Linked DNA regions of Homo sapiens: region 1 is linked to region 2. The links come from fine-mapping of genetic effects on plasma protein levels. Region 2 holds a variant in brackets. A gene starts in the other region. All regions are shown on their forward strands.

Region 1 (9,542 bases), not on the chromosome of region 2:
TCCCGTGTCTCTCCGGTGTCCGCCCCTCGGTCCCGTGTCTGTGTCGCCCTCGTCCGTGTCTGCCTCCCGCTTCCCCGCCTCGCGACTTGAGCCCCGCCCGTACCTGCTTAGGGCGCTGCCCTCGCCCGCTTGCTCCGGATCCCAGCCCAGGTACCCGGCCTCGCCCGCGGGTCGGGACCGTAGGGTTCAGGGTTCGCGCACAGCGGTCCACTGCCGGCGGCGGGGCGGCGGCGCCCCAGGACGGCAGGCGGGTGGGGCCGCCTGGAGGGCGGAGCTCGGCAGTCGCCGCCCCCGGGAAGCCTTGCACGCCGCGCCCCGGCCAATCCCCCGGTGCCCCCGGACACGCGGAACTTCCGGGCCGTCGGGGCCCGGGGCCGTCGGCGGGGGTGATCCCTGGCCGGTCCCGCCCGGCGTGGGTCTCGGGCGTCTGTGGCTCCCGAGAGTCCCCCTCCCGCCCTCGGTGGGGTCTCGACGTTCGGACGCGGCGCAGCGCTGGGGTCCCGGCCTCGCCCGACGCTCGGGCCCCGCCCCGCTGGGTTCGGAGTTGGGACACGGCCCCAGCCGTGGCTCCACCCCAGGCCTTGCGCCAGGACGCGCAGAGAGAGAGAGAGAGAGGCGGACACGATGCGGACTCGCAGACTTTAAGCAAACACGTGTGGGGCCGCTCCCGCCTGGCGGGTCAGTTGTCCGCGTCGGTCACCAGCGGGGCCAGGTAGTCCGAGTGCCGGATCCCGAAACTCCAGCCGCGGGGCTTCCGGTGCTGCGGGCCCGGAGACACCGCTGACCTCGCGGGGCCGGCATCCTCTCCGCGCCGGGACCCCTGGACCCCCGGGGACTCTGATCCCATCACTCCGACCTCAGGCCCTCCCCACTCTCCTGACTCTGACCCTTGACCCTGGGCTCCAGGCCACCTGATCCACGTTGTAGGCCGCGGGCCCTGGCTTCCGAGTGTTGTCTTGGGGGAGCGAAGTCCGCGCCAGAATCGTGAACTGGGGGGCCCGGGACTTGTAGACCCCTGGACTCACGACCTGATAGGCGCAGGGGCCCGGGGTCTGCGAGAGGGCAGAGGGTGCTGGCTGCCGCCTCCACTGCCGCGGACCAGGGACCCCCTGCGTCCGCCCCGGCCCCTCCCCCACCTTGCTGAGGTCCTCGAAGAAACTGCCAGCCGCTCTGCGGCCGTAGATGGAGCAAGTTGGGGCGGAGACTTTGCCGATGACGCGCGGACCCAAGAGCGAGGGCACCGTATAGGCCGCGGGACCTGGGGAGGAGGCAGGGCTCGGGGGTAGTGGGTCTCCGCGGACAGGCGCAGGGTGGTCCCAGCTCCCGGAGGGCGGTCCCCGGTCTCGAGTGGGAAGGCCCACAGTTCTGGGATGGGCCGTTCTGACCTCACCTGGGCTCTGCTGTTCCGCCTGGACACCCCAGTTTCGGGGAGCAATGGTGTGCCGAGGCGCACTGGGGTACGTCGCGTTCCCCGCTCGCTCCGGGAAGTACCTGCCTGCGGGGCGGATCAAGGGTGTGGGGGGCTAGAACTGCGTGGGAGCCTGGTGGGTACCCGAGATGGGGTCCTGGGACTAGTGGGGAGTCTGAGCCACGATTTATCAAAGCCCCGTGGGGTTCGGGGTTTGGGATTTGAGATCCGGATATGGGGGTACCGAATATGCGGTGTTAGGGTATCCGAGGGGGACTCGGGGTTCAGGTCGGGGGTTCCCAGGTGGGCCTCCCTGGAGGCAGTTCGGCGTTGGGGTGGCCAGGGGCCCGGGGGTCCTGACCAGGTCCCGGAGTGAGGAAGGGCGCTGAGCGGCGTGGGCGGCCGTAGATGGAGTAGGCGGGGGCGCCGTCGGTGCCGCGCACGGTCATGCGAGCGGGCACCAGGTGGCCTGGCCCGGGGCCGCACGTCGTCTGCTGCGTGGGGAAGCGCGCGCCGAAGGTGAAGGCGGGGGCGCGCGGCCGCGACGGGTCATGCAGGGCGTAGCCTGGGAGCATCCGAGTTAGCGTCTGGCCGGGCCCAGCCCCAAGCCCCATCTGCAACACGGACCCTCCCCCGGCACAGACCCCCTCTCCCCTCTAGCAGGCACGGTTCAGCCCCGAGCGCAGGCCTCCCTGGTCTCTTCCCCTTCCCTCCCCCAGGCGCCGTCCCACCCCTCAATCCCGGGGCCTGCCCCTTCTACCGGTGTTGGGCGGCAGCTTGTATTTGGGCCCGGGGCCTCCGTAGTGCGCCGCGATGGGGCCGCGGGGCCGGTGTGGCCGCCAAAGGCCCACCCAGGCGTCCGAGCCCATAGCGCGGGTGGGGGGCGCTTACGGCTCGCAGCACCTGCGGACAGAAGGCGGTGGCCGCGGCCCCTGCACCGCAAATTCTTGGGGAGCGCACTTTCCCACTACCCTGGGATCAGCGCGGGGCGGGGCGGGGCCTGGACCGTATCCCTGGCGCCAGCAAAACAAACGCGAGCTTCCTTCCCGGCTGTGTGGAGCTTGGGGCCGGGAGCGGATCCAGGGCCATCACCCGGACTCCAGGCGCATTAGGCAGGGACGTGAACTCGCGGGGGCCAAGTCTAGACCCAGACTTGGTGAAGGGAATCACCTGGGGGTGGGGTGGGGGCAGGAGATTTTCGTGCTGTTGGGAAAGGGTGCCCCGGGAAGGGCCTGCGTGGGGGACCCGGTGCCCCGAGGTGCACTGACCTGTTGTGGTAGCTCCTAGCGTGGGAAAACAAAGCGACGTGGCTGGACATCCCCGCTCCGCCCCGCCCACCTCCCAGACCCCATTGTGGCCCTTTCCCGCTTCCTGGCAACCGCACTGACTGCCTGCCCCCCCAACCTGGGTCCGCCTCCCCCTTCCCCACCACCCAGTGCCGCCGCTGGGCCTCTGTGTGGATTCTGTGGCACGGGTGGGATAGTAGCCTGGGCCACCCAGAACGCTGGCCTCACCCTTACCCAAGTTTCAGTATACCCATTCTGGAATAGGACAAATCTGCAGACAAAAGCAAGGATGGGAATAAAGGAACTGAATAATGCAAAGCACACACTCCATTTAATTATGTGTAGAGAGAGGACTTATCTATTTAAGTCCATGAAATATTCGCAAAAAAAATCATGTATTGGGCCACAAAATAATCACACAAATTGAAAAAAAGATGTGACACATGATTTGATTACAATCAAATACAATTCTAGGCAAACAAAATGTAAAAAAAAGAAGAAGAAAACTCAGCCTGGGCAATACAGTGAGACCCATCTCGACAAAAAACTTTAAAAATTAGCTGGGTGTGATGATGTACATCTGTATTCCCAGCTATGGGGTCGGTGGCTGAGTCGGCAGGATCTGTTGAGTCTGGGAGTTGGATCCTGCAGTGAGCAGTGATCCCACCACTAGACTCCGGCCTGGGTGACAGAGTGAGACCTTGTCTTAAAAAAAGAAAAAAAAAGGGAGAGAGAGAACAGGAAGCAGGAGCAAACAAATATTTTGAAATTGACAAATCTTTAAAAAAAAACCCTGGATCAAAACTTGTCAGAAATAATCTGGTTACAAACTGTAGCAGGAAGAGCCGCAGACAAAACTCCTCAGACACCAGGTTAAAGAAGGAAGGGATTTATTCGGCCGGGGGCATCGGCAAGACTCCTGTCTCAAGAGCCGAGCTCCCTGAGTGAGCAATTCCTGTCCCTTTTAAGGGCTCACAACTCTAAGGGGGTCTGCGTGAGAGGTCATGATCGATTGAGCAAGCAGGGGGTACGTGACTGGGGTCTGCGTGCACCGGGTAATCAGAACGGAACAGAACAGGACAGGGATTTTCACAGTGCTTTTCCATGCAATGTCTGGAATCTACAGATAACATAACCGGTTAGGTCAGGGGTCCCTCTTTAACTACCAGGCCCAGGGCGCGGCACTGGGCTGTCTGCCTGTGGATTTTATTTCTGTCTTTTAGGTTTTACTTTTTCTTTCTTTGGAGGCAGAAATTGGGCATAAGACATATATATGAGGGGTGGTCTCCTTCCTTAAAACTACATATCAAACACTACAAAGGTAGATTCCCTTCCTACTGAACTCCTACAGGAGGCAGCTAAAGCTGTGTTCTTGTGGGCGGAGGATTACCCAGGTGCCGAGGCAAGAGACTGAAGGCACAAACTGTTTCAGTATAATAAAGAAAATAGTTACAGTAAGAATAGTTATCATACAAATTAGATATAGAGATGACCATGGACATTATCAATCATTAGTGTAGACATTAGTCATTAACTTTTAATATTACTCTTTGTTGCATCATTAATATAACCTAGGAATCACCGGCGGGTATAGGGTCAGGTGCTGAAGGGACATTGTGAGAAGTGACCTAGAAGGCAAGAGGTGAGCCGTCTGTCACGCCCATATAAGGGCCGTTTGAGGGCTCCTTGGTCAAGCGGTAACGCCAGTGTCTGGGAAGGCACCCGTTACTTAGCAGACTGCGAAAGGCAGTCTCCTTTCTTTGAAGGAGTCAGGGAACACTCTGCTCCACCAGCTTCTTGTGGGAGGCTGGATATTTTCCAGGCCTGCCCGCAGTCATCCGGAGGCCTAACCCCCTCCCTGTGGTGCTTCACTGGTCACGCTCCTTGTCCACTTTCATGCTCCTCCCATACTCCTGGTTCCTCTTTGAAGTTCACAGTAGATAGCGGTAGAAGAAATAGTTAAAGTCTTAAAGTATTTGATCTTTCTTAGAAATGCATAGAAGAAAACGCTGACGTTTGCTGCCTTCCCTCTCTGCTTCAGCTACCTAAAAGGGAAGGGGCCCCTGTCCTGTGATCACGTGACATGCTTCACCTTGTCAATCACTCAGAAGATTCACCCTCCTTACCCTGTCCCCTTGTCTTGTATGCAATAAATATCAGCCGTTTGGGGCCACTACCGGTCTCCTCCTCTTGATGGTAGTGGTCCCCCGGGCCCAGCTGTTTTCTCTTTATCTCTTTGTCTTGTGTCTTTATTTATTATAATCTCTCATCTCCGCACACGGGGAGAACACCCACTAAGCCCCGTACGGCTGGACCCTACATGTTCTGAGGAAAATTTATAGTCATTTTAAGATGACTTCATTATGGCTGGGTGCGGTGGCTCACGCCTGTAATCCCAGCACTTTGGGAGGCCGAGGCGGGTGGATCACGAGGTCAGGAGATCGAGACTATCCTGGCTAACATGGTGGAACCCCGTCTCTACTAAAAATACAAAAAAAAATTAGCCAGTCATAGTGGCGGGCGCCTGTAGTCTCAGCTACTCGGGAGGCTGAGGCAGGAGAATGGCGTGAACCCAGGAGGCGGAGCTTGCAGTGAGCGGAGATTGCACCACTGCACTCCAGCCTGGGCGACAGAGCAAGACTCCATCTCAAAAAAAAAAAAAAAAAGACTTCATTATTATTATTTTAGACAGAGTCTCACTCTGTCAACCAGGCTGGGGTGCAGTGGAGCATCTCAGCTCGCTGCAACCTCTGCCTCCCAGGCTCAAACAATCTTCCCTTGTCAGCCTCCCAAGTAGCTGGGACCACAGACATGCACCACCACACTCGGCTACTTGTTTTGTATTTTTGGGAGAGGTGGGGTTTCACCATGTTGCCCAGGCCGGCCTTGAACACCTGGGCTCGAAAGATCCACCGGCCTTGGCTTCCCAAAGTGCTGGGATTACAGAAGTAAGCCACCCAGCCTCGTGACTACATTATTAATGAAGAAACGATTCAAAAAGCTTAGTATATATCTTACAAATGGAAAAAAAATAAGTAACATAAAGGAATGAAACAGGAACTAACACAAAGTAGTAGATAAAATATAATAACTATATATGTATATTTTTGAGACAGAGTCTCGCTCTGTCGCCAGGCTGGAGTGCAGTGGCACAATCTCGGCTCACTGCAACCTCCACCTCCCGGATTCAAGCAATTCTTCTGCCTTATCCTCCCGAATAGCTGGGATTACAGGCGCCCGCCACCATGCCCAGCTAATTTTTGTATTTTTAGTAGAGATGGGGTTTCACCATGTTGGCCAGGATGGTCTCGATCTCTTGACCTTGTGATCTGCCCGCCTCGGCCTCCCAAAGTGCTGGGATTATAGGCGTGAGCCACCGCGTCCAGCCACTCAGAGAGTTTTGTCATGGTTCTTTTCATAGGCATGTGTGCATGAAGGCCCCCACCCCTTCTTAACCTCTTATTTTGTTTGGGTTCGACACAAGTGACTCCATCTTGATATTGGCAATTTTTACGTTTCCTCTAAAAATACAAAAATTAGCTGGGCATGGTGGCAAGTGCCTGTAATCCCAGCTACTTGGGAGGCTGAGGCAGGAGAATCACTTGATCCCGGGAGGCGGAGTTTGCAGTAAGCTGAGACCGTGCCATTGCACTCCAGCCTGGGTGATAGTGAGACTCAGTCCCCAAAAAAAAAAAAAAAAAATTCTCTGAAGACATCACTGATCAATTATCCTGTGGTTAGGTTTCGATTATCCCTTCCTGTCCAGGTTGACTTGGTGCCATGTTGGGAGAATGGCCAGCAATTTTAAGTCAGTGTCAAAACCATTTGAACCACATTTGAGCAGCTGGAAGGAAATTTGGAAGGAGTAGCTATTGGGTTAAGTCGGCCTTTCATTTGATCAGTCTCACAGGTGTTCCCTATCATGTCAAAGTGCTGCGCCAGCATTACTTGTTAGCAGTTGTACTTTTGCAGAGGTTGGGCAGGTGCAGGGTTTTAAAAGAATGACACAGAGTGAAGTAATATGATGAACTCAGTTTGCAGAATGATTTTATTTTTGTATTTTCTTCTATCTATCTATCTATCTATACTTTAATAGAGACACTCAGCTATTTTTGTTTTTGTTGTAGAGAAGAGGTCTTACTTTGTTGCCCAGGCTGGTATCAAACTGACTTCAAACAATCCTCCTGCATTGGCCTCCCAAAGTTCAGGGATTATAGGCATGAGCCACTGTGCTTGTCCCTATATTTCTTAAATATAGTATAAAAATAGTATACACTGTATGCTCTTAGATTACTTGATTTAAGTGCTTTTTTTCTTTATGCCAATTAAATAGAGTTCTTTGTAAATTAAAATCACATATAGACATAAAGACACAAAAACATAGACAACACAAAGATCTTGTGGCTTTTCACTTGAAAATTTTAGTTATAAAACAGTAGGCCAGGCACGGTGGCTCATGCCTGTAATCCCAGCACTTTGGGAGGCCGAGGTGGGCAGATCACTTGAGGTCAGGAGTTCGAGACCAACCTGACCAACATGGAGAAACCCTGTCTTTGCTAAAAATACAAAAATTAGCCAGATGTGGTGGTGCGTGCCTGTCATCCCAGCTACTCGGGAGGCTGAAGCAGGAGAATCACTTAAATCCGGGAGGCGGAGGTTTCAGTGAGCCGAGATTGCACCATTTCACTTCAGCCTGGGCAACAAGAGCAAAACTCTGTCTCGAAACAAAAACAAAAGCAAAAACAAAAACAGTAAAACATAAAAATATAAATTCACGGGTGTGTGAAAGGACAGTTGGATTTAAATTATGTTTTTGATAAAACAGAACAGGTTAAGGTTACCTGTTCAGATGGCTAACGCTTTACGATTTTCATTACCCTACCGGTAATCCTCTGAACAAGATGGGAAGACGAGACTGGGCGCTGTGGCTCATGCCTGTAATCGCGGCACTTTGGGAGGCCGAGGCAGGTAGATCACTTGCGGTCAGGAGTTGGAAACCAGCCTGGCCAACATAGTGAAAACCCATCTCTACTAAAAATACAAAATTAACCGGACTTGGTGTCAGGCACCTGTAATCCTAGCTACTTAGGGAGGCTGAGGCAGGAGAATCGCTTGAACCTGGGAGGTGGAGGTTGCAGTGAGCCAAGACTGCACCACTGCACTCCAGCCTGGGGGACAGAGCGAGACTCTGTCACAAACAAACAAACAGCTCCTCAAATGAATATAAATATTTAATTCCAGTAAGATTTCCAATGTTAAAAATAGGAAAACACAAATTTAAAGTTCATATGCAAAAATGTGTTCAATTGTCAAAAAAATTCTAAAACAGGAAAAGAATAAAAGGGTTCTTAGGTATTAACCGCATGCGACAGTTAATTTGATGCACCAGGTTGGCTGGGCCACGCACCCCTGGCAGCTCTGTGCATTCCCGGCCCCTTCCTTGCTCCTGAAGCCCAGCCATCGCGGCATCTTTCTGCATTTGCTGCTTCTGAATCCCTTTGTGTCCTCTTTTCTTGACTTCCGCTGTTAACGTCATCTTACTAGGTAACGATTCGCTATGTTAATGTTTTTCCTGTTCACATTCCTGGTGTGGCTGTTCCCTTCTGTTTGGAACTAAGTCGTGATAGAGATTTTCGGAGGGGAAGATGAGAGAGGTTCGGTGAGTGTATCAGGCAGGGGTAGAAATGGATTTATTATGGGGAATATTATAGAATCGCTGGATGAGTTGGTGGTATAATAGCTGAGAGGTGGCCTTTGGGACTACCGAGCTTAAGAGGAAACTTGGGTAGCTGTGATTCTGAGATCAGGAACCTGCCGGGAATCCTGATGCTGCACCCCTGCTGCCCAGGCCTCCCTCAGCGACGGCTGAGTGTCCACAGCCCTGTCTGCCAGCAGTCAGCGCAGGGCGGAGGCCTCCGAGTCATTTCTGCCTTTCACATCTTACACAACTGCACTGAATCCAACAGCCTCGCCCGGAACTGTGGCTGCAAGGGGATCTGTAAAACACAGTATTGCCGCATTTGTATTTTAGGTTCTAAAATACAGGAAAATAAACAAAAGGAGGTGAGAATGGAAGCTGAACACAATGGACCACATCCAGCACAGTGGAAAATCAAGAGTCCTGATGTGAGCACAGCAGGCTTGAGATGTCGTCTGCCACCCAGTGATGTTCATGGCAGACGTAGCGGAGAGGTCCAGGTCGGAGATGCTGAACTGAGAGGCGTGCACAAGCCGTGGGAATGGATGGGGCCGCTTAGTGCAGGGGTCACCAAGTCCAGCCACCTCCTGTTTCTGTAAATAAAATTTTATTGGGGCCAGGCGCGGTGGCTCCCGCCTGTAATCCCAGCACTTTGGGAGGCCGAGGCGGGCGGATCATGAGGTCAGGAGATCGAGACCATCCTGGCTAACACTGTGAAACCCCATCCCTACTAAAAATACAAAAAATTAGCTGGGCGTGGTGGTGGGCACCTGTAGTCCCAGCTACTCGGGAGGCTGAGGCAGGAGAATGACGTGAACCCGGGAGGCGGAGCTTGCAGTGAGCCGAGATCCCACCACTGCACTCCAGCCTGGGCAACAGAGCCAGACTCCATCTCAAAAAAGAAATAAATAAAAATAAAAATAAAAAATAAAATGTTATAGGAACACAGCCACATCCTTTTATTTTTTAAGGTTGGTTTTGTGCAGACTTGAGTAGTTGCAAGAGACTGTGTGACCTGCAGAGGCAAAAACAGCCGCAATCCAGCTCTTCGCACAAAAACTTTGCTGCCCCTGACTGAGGGTGTGCACGTGGGTAAAGAGCCCCAGGGCCCTGCAGTACTCCCGGGCTGGAGACGTGGCAGAAACAAGCA
Region 2 (17,032 bases):
AAAATACAAAAATCAGCTGGGCATGGTGGTGCACACTTGTAATCCTGGCTACTCGGGAGGCTGAGGCAGGAGAATCGCTTGAACCCGGGAGGCGGAGGTTGCAGTGAGCAGAGATTGCGCCACTGCACTCCAGCCTGGGTGACAGAGTGGGACTCTATCTCAATAAATAAATAAATAAATAAATAAATAAAGTCGAGCTGCTAGAGTAAATTACTGGACATTCTCAATGCTTATATGGAACATGTGGAAGTAACATTGTAGTTTATAAGCACTGTATTCTAAGTGGAAAATGCAATGTCTTAAATAAAACTATTTAAAATTGGCACCTCCCAAAAAAATAGCCAATCTGGGTGGCAGGCACCTGTATTCCAAGCTACTCAGGAGGCTGTGGTGGGAGAATGATTGCTTGAGCCCAGGAGGTTGAGGTTGCAGTGAGCCATGATTGCTCCACTGCACTCCAGCCTGGGTGATGGAGCGAGACCCCATCTTGAAATAAATACATAAATAAAGTGGACAATTCAGCAGCATTTAGTACACTCACAACATTATGAAGGTACCACCTCTATCAAGTTCCAAAACTTTTATTTTTCCTTTTTACTTTGATAATTGGAAGCATTGATCATTCCAAAACATTTTTATCACCCCAAAAGGAAAAGCCCTGTATCCATTAAGCAGTCACTCCCCATTGCCCCTCCCCCCAGCCCCTGGCAACCAGCCATCTGCTCTCTGTCTCTATGGGTTTCCCTATTCCGGACATTTCATATGAATGGAATCAACACTACGTGTTTCTTTGTGACTGGCTTTGTCTCTTAGCATCGTGGTTTTGAGGCTCATCCCATTGTGGCATGTATCAGTCCTTCTTCTTTTCTATGGCTGAATCATGTTCCCTTGTATGGATACCCTAATTTTTTTTTTTTTTTTGAGACAAGATCTCATTTTGTTCCCCAGGTTGGAGTGCAGTGGCACAATCATGGCACACTGCAGCCTCAACCTCCTGGACTCAAGCAATCCTCCCACCTCCGCTTCCTGAGTAGCTGGGACTACAGGTGCATGCCACCACTCCAGGCAATTTTTTTGTTTGTATTTTTTGTAGAGACAGGGTCTCACTATGTTGCCCAGGCTGGTCTCGAACTGAACTACTGACCTCAAGTGATCCACCCACCTTGGCCTCTCAAAGTGCTGGAATTACAGGTGTGAGCCACTGCAACTGGCCAGATATGCCACCTTTGGTTTATCCATCCATCCATCCATTGAGGACCGCAGGGTGTCTCCGTTTGGGCTACTGTGAACACCCAGGCATCTTTGTGGCTGGGAACAGGAGAGGTGTGGAGAGCAGACAGTGAGTCAGAAGAACTAAAAAGGGAAATTTGGGAACTAGAACTGGGCTTTGGCCACCGAGATCAAGTCCTGATTTTACCTCCAAACCGTGTCTTGAATCCATCACTTCTCCATCTCTGCCACCACTTCCCCATCCCAGGCCACCACTATCTCTCCCCAGGTCGGTTACTGCAGCCTCCCTTCCGGCCTCCCTTCTGCCACTCCCAACTCCCTCATCCCCAGGGTTCATTCTCCACTGAGCAGCCGAGGGATCCTCTTAGAACTTTCATGAAATCAAGTCATGGCACCCTCTTGCCCAAAGCCTTTCCATGGCTCCCCATGGCCTTGGGAGCAAGTCCAGACTCCATCCCATGGGTGACAAGGCCCTCCTTATCCTGGCTGCTGGCTACCCCTCAAGCCTCTTCACACATGGTTTACTCTCCTCACGCTTCGCTGCAGCTGCCTGGCCTCCCTCTCTTCCCAGAGTGCGCCAGGCTCCAGGCCCTTGCATGTGCTGGTCCCCTTCCCAGGAGGCTTCCTCCTTCACTCAGCCACCCCTCATCCTTTAAGTGTTCACTCAGCCATTGCCTCTTCCAGGAAGGTCTGTGACCCCAACCCTTCCCCTCCCGCTAAGTCAGAGGCCTTCGCTGCTTCCCATTAGCCATTCTTTCAACCAGTATTTACTGGGCACTGCTTTGTCCCAGGCACCAGGGATAGAAGTTAAAAAGACAGGCAATGGCCAGGCACAGTGGCTCACACCTGTAATCCCAGCACTTTGGGAGGCCAAAGCAGGCGGATCATTTGAGGTCAGAAGTTTGAGACCAGCCTGGCCAACATGGCGAAACCCCATCTCTACTAAAAATATAAAGGTAGCCGGGCATGGTGGTGCTTGCCTGTAATTCCGGGGTTCTCAGGAGGCTGAGGTGGAAGAATCACTTGAACCTAGGAGGCAGAGGTTGCAGTGAGCTGAGATCATGACACTCCACACCAGCCTGGGTGACAGAACAAGACTCTATCAAAAAAATTAAACAATTAATTAAATGGTTAGTTTTGCAGGGCATGGTGGTTCACACCTGTACACTGGGCTTTTTTTTTTTTTTTTTTTGGAGTCCCACTATTCAGAGGCTGAGGCAGGAGGATCACTTGAGCCTGGGAGGCCGAGGCTACAGTGAGCCATGATCCTGCCACCACCACACTCCAGCCTAGGTGACAGAGCAAGACTCTGTCTCTAAATAAATAAATAAATAAATAAAATGGTTAGTTTTGCTGGGCGCAGTGGCTCACACCTGTAGTCCCAGCCTCTTGGGAGGCTAAGGCAGAAGAATCACTTGAGCCCAGGAGTTCAAGACAATCCTGGGCAACATAGCAAGATTCCATCTCTATGTAAAAAAAAAAAAAAATAGTTTTATGTTATAGGAACTTCACCTCATTTAACTTATTATTTTTTTAAAGACAGACAAGACAAGTGCCCCTGCCCTTCCTGACCAGAGGGGAAAATAAGTAAATAACATTCGTACAGTCCATGAATTGAAGTTAAGAGCCCAGGAGAAAAATAAGCAGGGCAAGAGGATATGAATTGTTCATGAGGATGGGTTGCAGGGCTTGTCATTTTACTAGGAGGGGACCGAGGAAGGCCTCCTTGAGAAGGCAGCCTTTGAGCAAAGACCTGAAGGAAATAAGGGCACAAACCATGCAGATGGCCAGGGAACAGCGTTGTTGGCAGAGGGAACAGCACATGCAGAGGCCCGCAGGCAGGAGGCCATGTGGCTGCAGCAGAGAGGAGGGGAGAGGAGAGATGACATCATGGAGGCCTGTGGGCTTTTCTCAGGAGGTTGGGAAGATGTGGCAGGACCCACAAAGGAAATGAGAAGATACAGCCAGTGACATAGGAGAAAAACCAGGAGAAGCCAATTGCAGGTCACGTATCTGGGCTTGATAACTATGGATGTACCCTTGGCGGGCTTCTCCCCACATTGGAAGGCAGGTCCAGGAAGGCAGGGGGTTTGGTCTGCCTTGTTCACCGCTGTGTCTCAGCACCTGGCAGTGCCCAGGACATAGCAGGTGCTTGGTGACGAGGATATGAGTCAGTGGCTGACCTGGTGTCCCCTGGCCCCGCTGTTTGGCATCCAGATCTCAGTCTCTGGACTGATGGCAGTGATGCCCCTCTTCACCTAGCCACCAGCAGGGGCAGATGGTGGTCCAGGTGGGATCTGAGGCGGAGCTTCCTTCCACCATGGCCACCCCACCCAAGAAGTGGGCTGAGCCAGCCACCCACAAGAGGGAACCGAAATCATCCTCCACCACAAACACGCTGGCCTGGCTCCACACTGGGCAGGACATGGAGGAAGGGGGAGCGATAGTGAGGGCCAGAGTCCCTCCACTTCAAGGGTCCCCTTCCCCTGGTATATACATGGGAAAAAGGAGACACCAGCCAAGGGCTGGGTTGCTGTGTGTGAGTGAATTTTGCTGAAGTCCCAAAGACCTGGAAGGTCCTGCCGGCTCATCCCCTGCCTCAAGTGCAGGGGTTTTTGTTGTTGTTGTTGTTTTAATTTTTTTTTATTTTTTTATTTTTTTGAGACAGAGTCTCACTCTGTCACCAAGCTGAAGTGCCGTGGCATGATCTCAGCTCACTGCAACCTCTTCCTCCCGGGTTCAAGTGATTCTCATGCCTCAGCCTCCCGAGTAGCTGGGATTACAGGTGTGCACCACATAGCCTGACTAATTTTTTTTGTATTTTTAGTAGAGACAAGGTTTCGCCATATTGCCCAAGTTGGTCTCAAACTCCTGAGCTCAGGCAATCTGCCCACCTCGGCCTCCCAAAGTGCTGGGATTACAGGTGTGAGCCACCACACCTGGCAAGTGCAGGATTTATGAGTCCTGCTTTAAAAGGTGGCACATGAGACATGGTGGCTCTCACCTGTAATCCCAGCAGTTTGGGAGGCTGAGGCGGGAGGAATGCTTCAGGCCAGGAATTCAAGACTAGCCAGGGCAATATAGCAAGACTCCCTCTCTACAAAAAATAAAAATAAAAATTAGCTGGCCGTGGTGGCATTCACCTGTACTCCCAGTTACTTGGGGGACTGAGGCAGGAAGATCACTCAAGCCTGGAAGGTCGAGGCTGCGGTGAGTGATCACGCCACTGCATTCCAGGCTGGGCGACAGAGCAAGACCCTGCCTCAAACAAACAAACAAAAAAAGCTGGCATTGGCAACTTCTCCCTTTATCCTTTTGTCCCTCCTTTAAGGGAGCCTCTCATTTCCCCCCAGACCCCTGCCACAGACACCCAAATTCCTGGACATTTTCTCCCAAGGGGCAATTTCAATTTCTAAATTTCACCTGCTCAAAGCAACGAAGAGGTATTGCCTGGGGCCGGGGCTGTGTTTATTTGACATGGTGCCTCACTGTGAATCCTCAACCCAAAGCTCCGAGATGGTGAGTGAGGCACCAGTGTTCTCACAGGAAGAGGCAGAGCGGGTGCTAGCCTACTGGTCACCAAAGCTGGTGTTCCTTTTTTTTTTTTTTTTTTTAGACAGAATTTTGCTCTTGTTGCCTAGGCTGGAGTGCAATGGCGCGATCTTGGCAAGAAATTCTCCCGCCTCAGCCTCCCGAGTAGCTGGGACTACAGGCATGCGCCACCATGCCCACAAAGCTGGTATTCCTAACCACCTAGCACTCTCCACTTCAAATCCAAAAAATCCTATCCAAGTACTGCTTTAGCAAAACCCACAACCAACCAACTCCCGCCCAGAAACCCAGAATGGCTGCCTTCTGTAGATAGATTTCGTGGGATTTATTTTCCTTCTGGCTCTTCAGGGTCAGGAGCTGAAGGGAGGTGAGGCTGGCAGGCATGGTTCCTGAGTCGCATCCAGGATTGCAGAAGAGCAGAGGAGGTCTTTCATTTGCCGGTGAAGCCCCAGACTCATAAAGCAACTTGTGCTGGGCGTGGTGGTCCGCACCTGCAGTCCCATCTACTCGGGAGGCTGAGGCGGGAGGATCGCTTGAGGCCAGGAGTTCAAGGCTGTAGTGCGCTATGATCGTGCCTGTGAATAGCCACTGCGCTGCAGCCTGGGCAACACAGCGAGACTGTCTCTTAAAAAAAATTTTTTTTTTTTTGAGGCGGAGTCTCACTCTTTCGCCCAGGCTGGAGTGCAGTGGCGCGATCTCGGCTCACTGCAAACTCCGCCTCCCTGGTTCACGCCATTCTCCTGCCTGAGCCTCCTGAGTAGCCGGGACTACAGGCGCCCGCCACCACGCCTGGCTAATTTTTTGTATTTTTAGTAGAGACGGGGTTTCACCGTGTTAGCCAAGATGGTCTCGATCTCCTGACCTCGTGATCCACCCGCCTCGGGCCCCCAAAGTGCTGGGATTACAGGCGTGAGCCACCACGCCCAGCCAAAATTTTTAAAAATAGTAAAAAGCAACTTGTAACCATGCATTAGGCTGGAAATTAATGGGTTTAATATGCATGAGTGGGTTCTAATCCCCACTCTGCCATTTGCAAACTGTGTGTCCTTCAGCAAGTCACTTTACCTCTCTGTGCCTTGGCCTCCTCATCTGTAAAACAGGGGAAACAGACTGGGCGCGGTGACTCACGCCTGTAATCCCAGCACTTTGGGAGGCTGAAGCGGGTGGATCACCTGAGGTCAGGAGTTCAAGACCAGCCTGGCCAACATGGCAAAATCCTGTCTCTACTAAAAATACAAAAAATAGCTGGCGTGGTGGTGTGCCTGTAATCCCAGCTACTTGGGAGGCTGAGGCAGGAGAATGGCTTGAACCCAGGAGGCAGAGTTTGCAGCAAGCTGAGATTGTGCCACTGTACTCCAGCCTGGGCGACAGAGCAAGTCTCCAGCTCAGAAACATAAAATAAAATAAAAATAATAGCTAATGTTTACCGAGCACTTGAGGGTTTTGCTTCTTACCATGACACTGATAATTAGGAAAGACTTTACTATCTCTATTTTAAACATAAAGAAACCAAACAGAGAGGTGACGCGGCTTGCCTGAAGTCACACAGCGAGCAAGTAAACCCGAGCTTAGAATCTGAGTAGCTGTGCAACCTTGGGCAAGTCACTTCACCTCTGTGAGCCTCAGTTTCCTCATCTGGAAAATGGAGATGATAAGGGTTGTTAGAAGAATTCAGTGAGCTTCATGGCCCATGAACTTGTCACTCTGTATTTAAGGGTATTTAACTTGTCACTTTGTATTTAAGGATTCACTTTCCAACTGCCTGTCTACCATGAGAACAAACACCATGTCTGCTGTGTTCCCCACTGTATCCCCAGTGCCTGGAGAAGTCCTAGCACATAGTAGGGGCTCAACAAATCTCAAGTTGAGGGGCAGTGTATTCTCTTGACCTTATGGGGCCCTAACTCCTCTCAGCCTTCCTCTGCTGCCTGGTGCTGCAAACGTCCAACCCCAGGGCCATTCCAGTCAACCCAATAGATGCAAACAGGACCATCCCAGTCTCCTGTTTCAGGTATGAGGAGCCCACAAAGCACATTTGGGTGTTATGATTGCTAGGAGGACCCAGTGCTGTTCTCTGGCCATTGCCAAGTGGCTAAAAGCTGCACACAAACAGGCTTCAGCCAAAAAGAAATGACTGACTTACAGAGCTGAGAAGTCCAAGAGTGACTGCTTTCAGGTATGGCTGGATCTAGGTGCACAGACATTGTCATCAAGATGGTTTTTCTCTGTCTCTGGGCTTTGCTCTACTATGAGTGTGTTCACTCCCAGGCAAGACAGCCCTCAGAAATTCCAAGCTCATGTCCTCTGGAGTGCAGTGACACGATTTCGGCTCACTGCAACCTCTGTCTCCCAGGTTCAAGCGATTCTGCTGACTCAGCCTCCCGAGTAGCTGGGATTACAGGCGTGCCACCACGCCCAGCTAATTTTTGTACTTTTTAGTAGAAATGGGGTTTCACCATGTTGGCCAGGCTGGTCTCGAACTCCTGACCTCAAGTGATCCGCCTGCCTTGACCTCCCAAAGTGCTAAGATTACAGGCATTGAGCCGCCGTGCCCAGCCCAAATGAGGTATTTTCTTATCCGACTGTGCTGTTAAAGACTGGAATTGAGGCTCATTGGCCCTGCCCACCCTTGAACCAGTCACTGGGGCATGGGAGGGAGGGTTAGCCCCAGAGAACATCTTGAACTCCGACTGGATGGAAAATCAGGTGCTTCTACCAGCACAAGGGGAAGTCAGGCAGCCACAGCCCATGTCCACTTCGACTTCGGCCTCACGGTGAGTGGCTTCCAGCAGGGAAACGCAGGGTCAGCTGCGCTCCCCACCCTCCAGCCCCACCCTCCGCTTTCTACTTCTGCTTCTAACAGTGTTGCCAAATACTCCCCTCTCTCCTCTCCTCCTTTCTATGGCCCTGTGGCCCCAGTTGCCTCAGAGACATGAAGTGACTTCCCCCAAGGTCACACAGCAGGTCTATGTGGCAGAGCCCTGAGGCGCACCCAGGCAGCTGGCCCCAGTGTCCTGCTCTTGACCCAAGAATAAGCTCAAGCCCACCCCTGTCTGAGTTCTGAAAGGAAGTAACTCAGGTGCCTGAGGCTCTGAAGATAATCCCTTTCCATCTGGGTGACTGATGGTCTGGTCTGATAGGCCTGAGAACCCCACAGAGGGCAGAGGAAAGTGCAGCTCCTTGCACCTTGCACCCTGCTTGCTGGCTTGGGGCACTCTCCTGGCTCGGGGCCCTTCCGGCCATGACCTCAACTCCTGCCTCCCTCTCTGGCACCCTCTTTTCATATATGTGTGTGTATATATATATATATATATATATATATATGGGGAGAGAGAGAGAGAGAGAGAGAGAGAGAGAGATGGGGGTTTCATCATGTCGCCCAGGCTAGTCTCAAACTCGTGAGTTCAAGCGATCTGCCCGCCTTGGCCTCCCAAAGTGCTGGGACTACAGACGTGAGCCACCACACCCAGTGCCCTCTGACACCTTCTGCCCCTCTCTGAGCATCTTGACATCTTACACCCCAGAGAGGCCCTGCTTGCTGCCTCCTCCAGTGCAGAGGGCACAGGTGGACAAGCTCCAGGGGCGGGCACCCCCATGCCTTTCTGCAGCCTCAGGCCCTGCCCAAGTCCCCTTGGGCTGGCAAGGGGCTCAGGAGGCCTCAAGTTGGTGATCTAGAACCAGGAAGCCACCCTGGCTGATTTGCAGGCGAGAAGTGGCCCGTACATATGTCACCTCCTCTGTGGGAGCAGCCCCAGCCTCTGCCAGGTTCTGGGGGTGTGGGAGAAGAACTTCCCAGCCTCTGCCGCACATCTGCATCTTGAGGTCAAGATCACCTGGGCAACAGGATGGGAGATGGAGGATGGGGGTGGGGTGGGGGGATAGGGCTGAAGGAATAGAGAGGGCAGGGTGCATCCTAACACCTTTTTCCACATTAAAAAATTTAAGGTGAAAGTCACATAACAAAATGAATTAATTAATTTTAGTTAGTGAATTAACTAAATTTATTCATTTACTTAGAGACAGAATCTTGCTGTGTCACCCAGGCTGGAGTGCAGGGGCAGGATCACCGCTCACTGCAGCCTCAAACTCCTGGACTCAAGTGATCCTCCCACCACAGCGCCTCCTGAGTAGCTGAGACTACAGGCGCATTCTACCTTGCCCGAATATTATTATTATTATTATTATTATTATTATTATTTTATTTTGTAGAGATATGAGTCTCACTATGTTGCTTAGGCTGGTCTCTTAACTCCAGGGCTCAAGTAGTCCTCCCACCTTGGCCTCCCCAAATGCTGGAATTACAGGTTTGAGCTACCGCACCCGGCCTCATGAAGTAACTAAATTTAGTACATTCACAGTGTTGTGCCACCATCATTTATCTCAGTCTAGATCCAGAACATTTCATCACCCCTAAAGGAAACCCCATACTCATTAGAAGTTACTTCCTATTCCCGCTGCCCATAGCCCATGGCAACCACTGGTCTACTTTCTGTCTCTAGGGGTTTACCTATTCTATATACTTTACATAAGCAGAATCACACAATATTTGTCCGTTTATGACTGGCTTATTTCACTTAGCATGATGCTTCCAAGTTTCATCCACATTGTAGCATATATCAATGCTTCGGTCCTTTTTATGGCTGTGTAATATTCCATTGTATAGATAGCATTGTCTTGATTCATTCATCCCCTGGTGGGCACATGAGTTGTTTCTATCTTTTGCCTATTGTGAATGGCACTGCTATGAACATTCATGTACAAGTATCTGTCTGAGTGCCTGTTTTCAATTCTTTTGCCTCTGTACTTTAGCTAACATTTTTGTTTGTTTAGAGATGGGGGTCTCACTATGTTGCCCAGCTTGGCCTCC[G/A]ACTCCTGAGCTCAAGTGATCCTCCCACTTCAGCCTCCCAAAGTGCAGGGATTACAGGCATGAGCCATCTCACCTGGCTTTAGCTAACATTTTGATGCTTTTTTTTTTTTTTGAGATGGAGTCTCGCTGTGCTGCCCAAGCTGGAGTGCAATGGCATGATCTCAGCTCACTGCAACTTCCACCTCCCTGGTTTAAGCGATTCTCCTGCCTCAGCCTCCCAAGTAGCTGGGATTACAGGCATGCACCACTACGCCTGGTTAATTTTTGTATTTTTAGTAGAGACAGAGTTTTGCCATGTTGCCCAGGCTGGTCTCGAACTCCTGACCTCAGGTGATCCACCCACCTTGGCCTCCCAAAGTTCTGGGATTACAGGCGTGAGCCACTGCACCTGGCCTTGATGCTTCTTTTAATGTAGATTAAATGAGGCGGGTAGGATTAAGCTGTTCTTAGTAATCCACTCCTCATTGTAAAAGAAAGACCTGAGAACAGGTTTAGCTAGTAATAGTCAGCATTATTTGTTTATTTATTTATATATTTTGAGACAGTCTCACGCTATCACCCAGGCTGGAGTAGTGGCACTATCTCGGCTCACTACAACTTGTCCCTCCCAGGTTCAAGCAATTCTCCTGTCTCAGCCTTCCAAGTAGCTGGGATTACAGGCATGCACCACCGCGCCAGGCTAATTTTTGTATTTTTAGTAGAGACAGGGTTTCACCCTGTTGGCCAGGCTGCTCTCGAACTCCTGGTCTCAAGCAGTCCTCCCACCTCGGCCTCCCAAAGTGGTGGGATTACAGACGTGAGCCACCACGCCCCACTGGTGTCCTCATTCTTTGTTCCCATTTTACAGATGCGGAAACTGAAGCTCAGAGAGCCCAAGTCATTTGCCCAAGGTGACCCAGCACTGAAGGGAGAAGCTAGCCATTAAGCTGTCCCCAAACCCGTGTACTCAACGTTGATGGCTACTCGATGGTGGCTGAGAGGCATCCAACCTGGAGCCTGGGAAGCTTCCAGGAAGGCTTGGGGGGAATCCAAGAGGAAGGTTCTTTGCGGGAGAAAGAGTGAGGCAGGGGAGTTTAGGAGGCCGCTTCCCAGCCCTCGATCGCCCCACAGCCACCAGGGGGCGCCAGAGCCCCGCGCAAAGCGGCTGCCACCAAGTGGCTGCCACCGCGCGTTACCACCCTCAGGGCCTGATGCCTGGGACTGCGGCCAAGTCCCGGCCCCAGGAGCTCGCGTGCCCCACGTTGATCCCGGGTCACGGGTGGGGACGGCTGGGGTAACTGGGTTGTACGTCCTCTGCGGAGCTATTAGGGACTCTAATTACCGGGATTGGAAGTGAATAATTATCTACTGGGCCTCAGGCTACTGAGTCACTTCCCCCAGAAACCAGATTCCCCAGGCTAGCGGAAGAGGGGGCGGCTCGCAGGCTGAGGTTGGGGCGGGGGAAGGTGGAAGCGGGGGTCTGGGGTTGGGGTGCGCGGCCGCCGCTGTTTTTGGTCAAGATCAGAACTGGGGAGCCTGGGTGTAAATCGCTGCTGGGCCACTTACCAGCCACGTGAATTGGGGAAGTCACTTCACCTTTCGTGCCTCAGTTTCCTTTCTGTCAAATGGGGGAAAACAACATTCTCTCCTTACAGTTGTTGGGCAAAGTAAATTGTAATCTACCTAAACTAAGCCCTCAGAGTAGTCCCTGGCACATAATCCTCTAATAATTCATTAATCACTCAGAATTATTAATTAGGCCGGGCGAGGTGCCTCACGTTTATAATCCCAGCACTTTGGGAGGCCGAGGCGGGCGGATCACTTGAGGTCAGGAGTTTGAGACGAGCCTGGGCAACATGGGGAAACCCCATCTCTACTAAAAATACAAAAAATTAGCCAACCGTGGTGGCTCATGCCTGTAATCCCAGCTACTTGGGAGGCTGAGGCACGAGAATCGTTTGAACCCGGGAGGCAGAGGTTGCAGTGAGCCAAGATCGAGTCATTGCACTCCAGCCTTGGTGACAGAGCAAGACTCCCTCCCCCAACCCCCCCCCAAAAAAAAAGGACAAAAAAGAACATTAATTAATCATTAATCATTGGGCCGGGTGTGGTGGCTGATGCCTATAATCCCAGCACTTTGGGAGGCTGAGGCAGGCAGATCATGAGGTCAGGAGTTCGAGACCAGCCTGACCAACATAGAGAAACCCCGTCTCTACTAAAAATACAAAAATTAGCTGGGCGTAGTGGTGCATACCTGTAATCCCAGCTACTCAGGAGGCTGAGGCAGGAGAATCGCTTGAACCCAGGAGGTGGAGGTTGCAGTGAGCCGAGATCGAGACATTGCACTCCAGCCTGGGTGACAGAGTGAAACTCCATCTAAAAAAAAAAAATCATTAACCATTAATTCAGAATCATTAATTCTGTTATTATTACCATTTTTTATCACTTGGGCTCAGTAAGTGATTAAGAGGTAGGGCACTACAGTGAGGCCAGTCTTTAGTCCACACCAGCTGCTTCATTGCCAGTCGTGTGACATGGACATGTCACTTCACTGCCCTGTGCCTCAGTTCCTTCATCTGACAAATGGGAAAATGAATAGCAAACCGTTCATTTGGGGTGGAAGAGATAAGGCCTGTGATGTTCTCAGTGTGGCGCACGCTTCCATAAATGGAGTCCAGATTGTAAATACTGTTCATGCTTTTCTTAGGGAAGGACTTGTGGCAATTTTAGCTTCTAAGGCACTGGGAGGACAGAAAACAGAACTGAATCCAAGGGAAGGAAGCACAGGGAGAGATGACATCAGGCACTTGAGCTCAGCAGATCAGACCCTGAGCCCAGGAATCGGCCTTGGGAGTTCTGCCCACCCAGGCAAAAAGGGAAGAACCCAGTAATGTAATTATTTTCTGGCCTGGGGCAGATGTGTATTGACCAAGGGGGACCATTTCCTGAGCCCTCTTGGTCTCTGTTGGACCCTAATGGGTGGGAAAAGGGTTGGTTGGACCTCACCCCCCCAAGGTTTCTTGAGCTCTGTGTTAATTATTGATTGCTGGGTAACAAATTACTCCTGCATTTACTGGCTTAAAACAGCAAACCTTTATTATCTCATATGGTTTTAGGAATTCACATGCAATCTGACTTAGCTTGTAGTTCAGGGTCTCTCACTCCTGAGATGGTAGTCCGAAACATGGGCTGGTGGCACGCACATGCAGTTGCAGCTATTTGAGAGGCCGAGACAGGAGGATTGTTTGAGCCTAGAAGTTCAAGGCTATAGATCGTGCTATATGATCGTGCCTGTGAATAGCCATTGCATTCCAGTCTGGGCAATGAAACAAGACCCCGTCTTTTAAATAAACAAACAAACAAAAATGGGTTAGGACTGTTCTCATCTGGGGTCCAACTGGGGCTGGATGATTCACTTCCAGGATAGTTGGAAGTGATGGTTTCAGTCCTGGCTGTTGCCAGGAGGTCTCTGTTCCTTGCTGGCTGGTGGCAGGAAGCCTCAGTTCCTCTTCACACGGACCTCCATAAAGCTACTTGGGTGTCCTTAAGACACGGTGGCTGGCTTCTCCCAGAGTGGATGGCTCAAGAGAGTACAAGGAGAAGCCTAAATGCTTCTTATGACTCAGTCTCAGAAGTCACACAGCGTCACTTCCACTTTAGTCTCTGTTAGAAATGACTCATTAAGGCCAGGTGTGGGGGCTCACGCCTGTAATCCCAGCACTTTGGGAGGCCGAGGCGAGCGGATCACGAGGTCAGGAGATCAAGACCATCCTGGCTAACACAGTGAAACCCTGTTTCTACTAAAAATACAAAAAATTAGCTGGGCGTGGTGGCTCGTGCCTATAGTCCCAGCTACTCAGGAGGCGGAGGTTGCAGTGAGCCGAGATCGCACCACTGCAGTCCAGCCTGGGTGACAGAGCAAGACTCTGTCAGAAAGAAAGAAAGAAGGAAAGGAAGGAAGGAAGAAAGGAAGGAAGGAAGGAAGGAAGGAAGGAAGGAAGGAAGGAAAGGAAGGAAGGAAGGAGTCATTAAGTCCAGCCCACACTCAAGGGCAGGGGAATCAGGTTCCACCTTTTCAAGGGAGGTATGTCAAAGAAGTGTGGACTGTTTTTAAGCCACGAGGAGCACCTGTTATGTGCCAAGAACTGTGCTCACAAGAGTGAGCAAGACACACAAATGCCTGGCCGAGTGGAGCTGACCTGCTCCTGGGGGTGGGGGAAAGAGACTGCCAATAAACAGATGAATCAATGATTCTGGTATCAGTCAGGGGGCCACAAGGGTGAGGAAGAAAAAACATGCAGAGGCAAGTCAGGCGCGGTGGCTCCTGTAATCCTAGCACTTTGGGAGGCCAAAGTGGGAGCATTGCTTGAGCCCAGGAGTTTGAGACCAGCCTGGACAACATAGAGAGACCCTGTTTCTACAAAAAATAGAAACAATTAGCCAGGCATGGTGGGGTGCACCTGTAGTCCCAGCTCCTTGAGAGGCTGAGGCAGCAGGATCGCTTGAGCCCAGGAGTTCAAGGTTGCAGTGAGCCATGATTGTACAACTGCACTCCAGCCTGGGTGATGGAGTGAGACCCTGCCTCTAAGAAAAAGAAAGAAAAAAAGCAGGAGCAGAAGAGAGATGGAGATGGTCAGCAATGGGGGCAGGGCTGGTTTAGGTTTGGTGGGCAGTCAGACATCTCCTGGGAGTGAAGAAAGCAAGGGTAGACAGCTGGGCGCGGTGGCTCACGACTATAATCCCAGCACTTTGGGAGGCCAAGGCGGGAAGATTGCCTGAGGTCAGCTATTCAAGGCCAGCCTGGCCAACATGGTGAAACCCCATCTCTACTAAAACTACAAAAAATTAGCTGGGCATGGTGGCTTTCACTTGTAATTCCAGCTTCTCAGGAGGCTGAGGCAGAAGAATCACTTGAACCCAGGAGGTGGCAGAGGCTGCAGTGAGCCAGGATTGAGCCATTGCACTCCAGCCTGGGCAACAGAGTGAGACTCCGTCTCAAACAAAACAAAACAAAAACATCTGGTGGAAGAGCATTCTGGGCACAGGGAACAGCCAGTGCTAAGGCCTTGAAGTGGGAGCATGAAGGTGAGTTTGAGGAACAGCCAGGAGGAGCCCAGTGTGCTGCAGTGTCCTTTGATAATGCTCAGCACTCTGTGCATTCACTGAAGGCCACTAGGGACAAAGTGTCCTACACAATGTCATTTCCCTTCACCCAACTACTATCATGCCCATTTGACAAGCCAGAGATACTGAGGCTCAGAAAGTGGGAGCCTGTTGCTGGTGGCAAGAGGGGACCTTTGGAGGTTGCACAGCAGTGCCGTGATGGAAACTCGGGCATGGGAAACACCAGCAGTAGCCATTGCCCAGCTGGGGGCCAGGCCAGGCCAGGTCCCCGGGCCTCCTCCTCGCCTGTGGCCCAGGCCTGCAGAAGCACATTTTACAAATGCAGACAGCAAGGCCTCCACTCTGGCTGGGTGACCCTGGGCAAGATCTTTGCTCTCAAACCTCAGTGTCTGCATCTGTAAAAGGGGTGTGAAGCTCTGTTGTTTACAGGACTGGTCTTTGTGGCCACTCCTCTTCACAACCCTCGAGGGACACGGGACTCTCACACCCAATCATAGATTATAATCACATTCTTTTTTTTTTTGAGACGAAGTCTCACTCTTGTCACCAGGCTGGAGTGCAATGGTGCAATCTCGGCTCACTGCAACCTCCGCCTCCCAGGTTCAAGCAATTATCCCTGCGTCAGCCTCCCAAGTAGCTGGGATTACAGGCACCCACCAGCACGCCCAGTTAATTTTTGTATTTTTAGTAGAGACAGGGTTTCACCATGTTGACAAGGCTGGTCTCAAACTCCCGACCTCAGGTGATCCATCTGCTGCAGCCTCCCAAAGTGCTGGGATTACCGGCATGAGCCACCGAGCCTGCACTATATTCAACATTCTTTATCAGTCGTTGCTATGTGGAGGTACCTCCCCCACTCCTAAGCCCTCAATGTGAGTTTTCTCATCAAATTCCCCCTCAACCCAATGGGGTCAGTCCTGTCACTGTCCCCATTTTCCAGATGAGGAAACTGAGGCCCAGAGAATCTATGTGACTGCACAGCTAGGAGATACAGAACAGAGAACTCTTTTTTTTTTTTTTGGAGACGGAGTCTCGCTCTGTTGTTGCCAGGCTGGAGCACAGTCGCGTGATCTCAGCTCACTGCAACCTCCCCTTCCTGGGTTTAAGCGATTCTCCTGCCTCAGCCTCCCGAGTAGCTGGGACTACTGGCACCCGCCACCACACCCGGCTAATTTTTGTATTTTTAGTAGAGATGGGGTTTCACCATATTGGCCTGGCTGGTCTTGAACTCCTGACTTTGTGATCCACCGCCTCAGTCTCCCAAAGTGCTGGGATTACAGGCCTAAGCCACCGCGCCTGGCCCACTTTTTGAATTTTTATGAGTATATAGTAGGTGTATATATTTATGGAGTATGTGAGGTATTTTGATACAGGCATGCAATGTGTAATTATCACATCAGGGTAAATGAGGTATCCATCACCTCAAGCACTTATCATGTATTTGTGTTTGTACTAGTTAACTTTTGTTGTTATTTAAATTATTATTAATACGAATTGCTAATATGAATATTAATAGCATTGATCATTGTTAATTTATTGCTGTTGACTCGTGTTGTAATCGTTATCTTTTTAATTTTTTTTTTTTTTTTTTGAGACGGATTTTCACTCTTGTTGCCCAGGCTGGAGTGCAATGGTACGATCTCGGCTCACCGCAACCTCCACCTCCCGGGTTCAAACAATTCTCCTGCCTCAGCCTCCTGAGTAGCTGGGATTACAGGCATGCGGCACCACACCTGGCTAATTTTGTATTTTTAGTAGAGACGGGGTTTCTCCATGTTGGTCAGGCTGGTCTCGAACTCCCGACCTTGGGTGATCCGCCTGCCTCGGCCTCCCAAAGTGCTGGGATTACAGGCATGAGCCACCGCGCGTGGCCTGTAATTGTTATTAATCCTGTGAGTCTCCGGCTTTCTGGAACTTGGCCAGCAGGAGGTGTTGGTGTTTTTCACAGCAAGAAGGAAGGGCGGTTGGACCTGCTCCCCTAAGACGGCCTGGCTTGTTTCCGGGAGCTACGGATCAGTCATGGGAATTTGAATAACCCTTTCTCTCCTTAGGTCCCAGTGACCTGCCGAGTGGGAAGAGCCGTGGCTGGCCGGCCTCCCAGTGGCGACGACGACCTCGCTGTGTTCGTGGCAGCGGCACTCTCAAATCTGGGCACGGTGATGGGAAGGTTATTTGTTGGAATCCCTTTGCCTTTCCAAGGGAAAATAAACACAAAAAGTGAGAAGTCTTGGGGTCTCAGCGAGCGCCAAAACAAAAAACTGGACTCTGGCGGGGATGTGG

Which allele goes with the higher level. Alleles are on the strand shown, and positions count from the first base shown. The strength of an association depends on the size of the effect and on how common the allele is.
For the plasma level of the protein whose gene starts at base 212 in region 1, allele G in region 2 goes with a higher level than allele A (weak association).

Evidence for each region. A credible set is the group of variants that fine-mapping cannot tell apart. PIP is the chance, under the fine-mapping model, that this variant and not a neighbour inherited with it causes the effect. The UK Biobank Pharma Proteomics Project read protein levels with antibody pairs (Olink). The fine-mapping took linkage between variants from a reference panel, not from the people measured, so its PIPs are less certain.
Region 1: it holds the start of TYMP, and the variant in region 2 is the best candidate, but not a certain one, in a credible set for the plasma level of the TYMP protein (UK Biobank, PIP 0.78).

What each region holds. Positions count from the first base shown.
Region 1 is chr22:50,529,801-50,539,342 of GRCh38, forward strand. TYMP (thymidine phosphorylase) reads right to left here and starts at 212. Exons shown (of 10, transcript NM_001953.5): 1 at 104-212. CIMAP1B (ciliary microtubule associated protein 1B) reads right to left here and starts at 2,698. Exons shown (of 7, transcript NM_001014440.4): 1 at 2,677-2,698; 2 at 2,169-2,311; 3 at 1,770-1,973; 4 at 1,391-1,495; 5 at 1,137-1,258; 6 at 912-1,052; 7 at 626-760. The coding sequence starts at 2,277. The coding sequence ends at 680. RefSeq lists silencers at 1-49, 60-909, 920-1,149, 1,310-1,419, 1,770-1,929 and 3 more and enhancers at 1,132-1,637, 9,530-9,542.
Region 2 is chr12:111,386,335-111,403,366 of GRCh38, forward strand. It overlaps LINC02356 (long intergenic non-protein coding RNA 2356), which reads left to right. Exons shown (of 4, transcript NR_187522.1): 3 at 10,497-10,539; 4 at 16,804-16,976. Among named protein-coding and RNA genes, the nearest start is that of SH2B3, 11 kb to the right of the region's middle. RefSeq lists an enhancer at 16,796-17,032. The variant G/A (reference allele first, on the strand shown) is at 9,650.